Regions from separate parts of the Homo sapiens genome. Here region 2 is linked to region 1. The links come from fine-mapping of genetic effects on gene expression. A gene starts in region 1. The other region holds a variant in brackets. All regions are shown on one strand. Distances are between the middles of the regions.

Region 1 (2,914 bases):
CTACTGTGGCAAACAGAGAGCTACAAAATATAATAATATAGAAGTATGTAAAAAAAAAAAAAAAAAGGAATAACCAATTCTGCCAGGTTGAATAGTAGGGTCACGAGGAAACGACGTTTGAGCTAGGTCTTGCTAGATGTTTTTAAATAAAATGTTTTTCTTCCATAATGAATATGAAACAATTAGAAAAAAAATGGGAAAATTGAGTTTTCAAGGATGAGTTCTTCAGGAAAAGAAAAGCTTTGGCTTTTAGAGAAATTGGATTCATTCATTCATTCATTCATATTCATTTAGCAAATATTCATTGCCTTCACTCCAAGCTAGATTCCGAGAATCCAACAAACGGTACTTGCCAAAGGGAACCTGTCGGCTGGTGGGATGATAGAGATCAGACAGTTGCCACACAATGTGAAAAGTGCCGTGAAAAAGTAAGCATAGGGTGATGTGGAAGCACATGGTTGCCTCTAATCTGGACAGACTGAAGACACTGAGATTTACAGTTAGGCCAGGGTCATTTGAAGCACTGCCTTGTTGTATTTGTATGTAATGACATTTCGAAACGTGGAATGAAAGGAAAAGTACAGGCAGACTATAAGAAGCTTCCACGGATGTGTCTAACTTTGCAAATGAACAAAAATCTAATGTAGACATATCCTGGAAACTTCTAGTTTGCCTGCACTTTTCCATTCCAAATGGAGGTTTGGACATTTAACAGAGGCCTCAAAGGGTTATCCTGTTAAGATTTTAGTATATACAGCAGGGGCTTGAAGGAATGTTGATTCCATTCCTCTTGGCCTCCTTTTATGAATCCAGTTCTGTGCTAGCTCTGTGAGTAAATGAAAATGCCTTCAAAATTGGGATGCCAGAGTTAGACAGCAAAGGAGCAAAGGAACCCGTATCAGCTAAGTGTGGGAAGGGAAATATGTACCAGTTGCTATATACTTTCACACGTTATTTTAACCTCATAACAACTCTTATCAATTCAGATGATGGAACAGGGTTAAAGAATAGAGGCTGAGCACCTGGCTGTCCACGGACACACTGAGCCAGCAGGAGCACCCGTGCCCCGCAGCAGCACCCAGGGCCCTCCTAGAGTTCCGGCCTTAACGCCTAGGAACGTGCCATTGGCTCCTGCGTTTCTCGTTCCCGTCGGGAACGCCACTGGCTAGTACCTTGCCTGGCCCCCAGTGCTCAATCCCTGGTAGTTGGGAGGACGAAAAGGAAATCCCTCTCTGGTCGGTCCTCACCGCAGCCCTGTGTCAGGCCGTCACACGGCGGCCTCCAGAGTCGAAGGCGCTCTGAGGAGATGCAGGTTGTGTCCAAAACCTCCCACCTCGGGGTCTCCTGAACGTCCCAACAAGCTCCTTGGGCCCTTAGGCGTTAGGCCAACCCCAGGCCTCGGCTGGCCCCGCCCACTCTCCGCGGCCGGAAGTGGCGGCGCCGAGTGAGGTAAATGCGTGCCCGGAAGCGCGACCTCGGGCGGTTGGAGGGGCTACCGGGTCTTACCAGTCCGTGGCGGGAGTCCCGGAGGACCCTCGACGGGGGAGTTGCCGAGAAAAGGCCTCGCCGGCATTCTTCCCCTCCACTGGGTCCTTTGAACCTAGTTTGGCTGGGACTCGCCTTCAGGCGGCGCGGAGGATTTCGAGGCCCTGAGGCGCGGCCCTTAATTTCCGGAAGTGGGGGCCGCGCCGCGCCGTCAAGATGTGCTCGACGCCCGGAATGCCGGCGCCGGGGGCCTCGCTGGCCCTGCGGGTGTCCTTCGTGGACGTGCATCCCGATGTGATCCCGGTGCAGCTGTGGGGGCTGGTGGGCGAGCGGCGGGGCGAGTACCTGCGGCTGAGCCGGGAAATCCAGGAAGCGGCGGCCACGCGCGGCCAGTGGGCGCTGGGCAGCGCCTCGGCCTCGCCCGGCGAGCTGTGCCTGGTGCAGGTCGGGCTTTTGTGGCACCGCTGCCGCGTGGTCAGCCGGCAGGCACAGGAGAGCCGTGTCTTCCTGCTGGACGAGGGCCGCACCATCACGGCCGGAGCAGGCTCGCTGGCGCCTGGGCGCAGAGAGTTCTTCAATTTGCCCTCGGAAGTGCTGGGCTGCGTGCTAGCGGGCCTGGTGCCGGCAGGCTGCGGCGCGGGCTCAGGCGAGCCGCCGCAGCACTGGCCCGCCGACGCCGTGGACTTCCTTAGCAACCTTCAGGGCAAGGAGGTGCACGGGTGCGTCCTGGACGTGCTGCTGCTCCATCGCCTGGTCCTCCTGGAGGTGCCTGATGTGTTCCAACAGATGCGGGAGCTGGGCCTGGCTCGGCGGGTGCCCGACAGCCTCTTCCGTTCGCTGCTGGAGCGCTATCTCACAGCGGCCACTGCTAGCGTGGGCTCCGGGGTCCCGGTTCTCTCGCGAGTCCCGCTCAAGCAAAAGCAGCCTGGTCTGGATTACTTCTATCCCCAGCTGCAGCTGGGCGTGACGGAGGCCGTGGTCATAACCCAAGTGTGCCATCCCCACCGCATTCACTGCCAGCTCCGCAGCGTCTCGCAGGAGATCCACCGCCTCTCCGAGAGCATGGCCCAGGTATACCGGGGTTCCACGGGGACAGGGGATGAGAACTCTACCAGTGCCACCTGGGAGGAGAGGGAGGAGAGCCCAGATAAGCCGGGCTCTCCGTGTGCATCCTGTGGCCTGGATGGACATTGGTACAGAGCACTGTTGCTTGAGACTTTTCGGCCCCAGCGCTGTGCCCAGGTGCTTCATGTGGACTATGGAAGGAAGGAGTTAGTGAGTTGCAGCAGCCTTCGGTACTTGCTGCCTGAATATTTTCGAATGCCGGTGGTGACCTACCCTTGTGCTTTGTATGGACTCTGGGACGGTGGGAGAGGCTGGTCTCGGTCACAGGTCGGTGACCTGAAGACACTGATACTAGGCAAGGCAG
Region 2 (2,914 bases), 57 kb before region 1:
GCTGCCTCTTGGAGGTGCCAACAAGAGCCAGTGAGATGGAATATTCTCTAATCATCAGACACTTTCTTTCTGAAATGAATGATTTAAATCCTTTCAGACCAGCGCCAAGAACAAATTCCAAAGAACCGACTTCCCCTGTGTCAGATCAATGGGGCTTTGTGTGTCTTTCTTCCGGGGGATGTTTCTAACAAGATATTGAAAAATAATTCTTTGACAGGAGTGCCTGTTTTGTTGCTACTTTGAGAGTTGTTTTGATGTTTGTTTCTCAATTTTGCTATAGCTTAATCAGTTTCCAAGAATATTATTTAAGGAAAAACCAGAGAAGAATATTATAGGTACATAAAGAAGGGGAAGGGTTTAGACTACTTTTACTTGACCATATCAGATGAAATGTATATTCCACTGGCTAACATACCTTTGAGAAAAGAGGCCAGAATTTCTATCCCTTCTCTTTATGCAGTAAATTTTTCAACAAGTTAAGGGAAACTAGAATATCATGACTGAGAAAGCCTTTAACAACCTAGGCCTTTATAAAAGTAAGGCTAAATAAATAATACTTAAAACATCTTCCTAATTTCTATCTGTTAGAAGAAAAAGGAAGAAAAATGCCCACACATATCATCATGGATAGGTTAAATCCTCCTGTTTAGTAGAAAACAAGTATATTTAAAAAGTTACCCTTTAATTTCAGATAATATAAGTAGCATCTTAGGCTAATGTGAGAACCTCCTGGCCCAGGAAACTGTTGGCACTGAACATGACGTGACAGACAAATCTCATGGCTCTAATCTAATGCAAGACAGATTTTAAAAGAAACAGTTTTTTAGCCGGGCCCAGTAGCTCACGCATGTAATCCCAGCTGCTCAGGAGGCTGAGGCAGGGGAATCGCTTGAACCCGGGAAGCAGAGGTTGCAGTGAGCCGAGATCACGCCATTGCACTCCAGCCTGGGTGATAGAATGAGACACCATCTCAAAAAAACAAAACAAAACAAAACAACAACAACAACAAAAAAACCCACAAAAAACAGTTTTTTAAGTCTTGCCTCTCTTTAGAAGTGTTGAAAGTTCCAATTTCACCAGCACCATTCATGCGGAAGCTTGTAGGACCATAATGCTAAGCAATGCAAACAGGAATGGCACACAGAAGGAGAATGGGTACAAATGGAGAGAAAGAGCTAATATTCATTGATACCAGCTAGGCTTATCTTATTAAATCCTCATAACAACTTTGTAGAGAAATGAGAATTACCATTTATTGAGCACCCAAGTTCTAAGACCACAGTGGGAGGTTCACATACATTATCCCTTTTTTTACCCTTATTAGGTAAAATAGTACATTATCTCTTATTAGGAAATGGAGGCACAGAAAATTTAAATTACCACCATGACAGTCTACAACTACAAATTGGGATGTCTGGATCCAAGCCCAAGTTACCTG[A/C]AACTATCCATTTACTTACTCTTTCCAATAAAAGCATGTGGCCAATCCCTATTCATCTTTTCAATACCAATACTGAGCACATTGGTAGACATACAAAAAGTGTTCCATAAACAGATGTTGTCTACAACTGGCCCCAAAGGGCAAGCTTTTCCCTCATCCTGTTACACACTGCCTTTCAGAGGACAGAATTTGCTTGAGATCTGTTTCGTCTCCTTTGTAACCTAATCAGATTTCATTAGGCATTCAGTTTTGGTTTTTATCTCACAACCAAATCCACTGTAGTTTTTTTCTTTTCCATAATGAGTGATGAGTGGAAAAAAGAATGGAAGACAGAAATGAAGGAAAAAAAGATGAAAGGACAGTGGAGAGCAACGTAACTCATACTTTACTAATATACTTACAGGAACAGCATTAGACAGAGAAGCCCAAAGCAGTAAGAGCCCATAATTGGGTGAGTTTTCCTTACTTGTTTCCGTCTCTACAATATCCAGCGTAGCTTGCAATAATGTCTGTTTAAAAGAAATAAACATTGCCAAACCATGGCTATGTGACAAATATCGATGTTAATAAACAAGAGATCATGCCTTTTTCTTTAATATGAAAGATATCATTTCTGCCATTCCCAGGTTTTGCAGTTTGAGGCATGTGAAGGGATTTATGTCCTTACTGTAGTATAGTAATTAGGAGTAGGGATTCTGGAGCTTGACCGCCTCACTGCATTTGTTCAAATCCTGGCTCAGCTATTTAAGAGCTGGATGACCTTGAACAAGCTACTTTAATCTCTCTGTGCCTCTGTGTCCTCATCCATAAAATGTTCATAATATGGTACCTACCTCGTAGGATTGTTGTGAGAATTAAATGAGTTAGTACCTAAAAAGTGCTTAAAATAAAACCTTTCAGAGGGTAAAATGCACTTTGGATCTCTACTTTACCAAACTGAATTGGCAAATTGTGTGTTATTATCTCTGCCCTCCACACTGCTCTGGAATCCCTGTCTTATAAACCTCTGCTCTTAGCAAAATGCAAGCAATAGAGAAACACACATCTCTGGTGCATTCAGGAGAAAACTACACCCCCATCCACCATACAGATTCTCAGCCCATTCACCATGGGAGACAGAACTGCCAAGCCAGAATATTACAAATACCACAATACTCTAAAACCATACAGAGAACGGACATTTGACTTGAACAGTGACAGCTCAGGGCAGGGCCCCATCCAAGGCTACCCATCTCAAGACATGTTGTTCTCAAGTCACCAAACAAATCCCACTAAAGTATTTTCTTCATCGGGCGGTTTCCCCAGATTTGTCTTTGCCAGTGACGGCTCTCCATCATGGGAAAAAATTCAGACACTGTAACATTTTCATTAAGTTACTCATCTACTTTTAATCTTAAATAACTTATGTCTAGGTGATAGAAATAATGGGAGCTAATATCAACTCACTGCTTGCTAAGGGCAAGTACTGTTTTAAGT

The links. PIP is the estimated chance that this variant, and not a neighbour inherited with it, causes the effect.
Region 2: its variant is fine-mapped to the expression of TDRD6 in tibial nerve (GTEx, PIP above 0.99). The same link has a PIP of 0.9 or more in atrial appendage, gastroesophageal junction, nucleus accumbens and sigmoid colon.

Annotation. Positions count from the first base shown.
Region 1 is chr6:46,686,428-46,689,341 of GRCh38, forward strand. TDRD6 (tudor domain containing 6) reads left to right here and starts at 1,458. Exons shown (of 4, transcript NM_001010870.3): 1 at 1,458-2,914. The coding sequence starts at 1,702. TDRD6-AS1 (TDRD6 and SLC25A27 antisense RNA 1) reads right to left here and starts at 1,738. Exons shown (of 2, transcript NR_134643.1): 1 at 1,507-1,738.
Region 2 is chr6:46,629,124-46,632,037 of GRCh38, forward strand. CYP39A1 (cytochrome P450 family 39 subfamily A member 1) reads right to left here. Exons shown (of 12, transcript NM_016593.5): 6 at 1,840-1,947. Among named protein-coding and RNA genes, the nearest start is that of CYP39A1, 22 kb to the right of the region's middle. The variant A/C (reference allele first, on the strand shown) is at 1,439.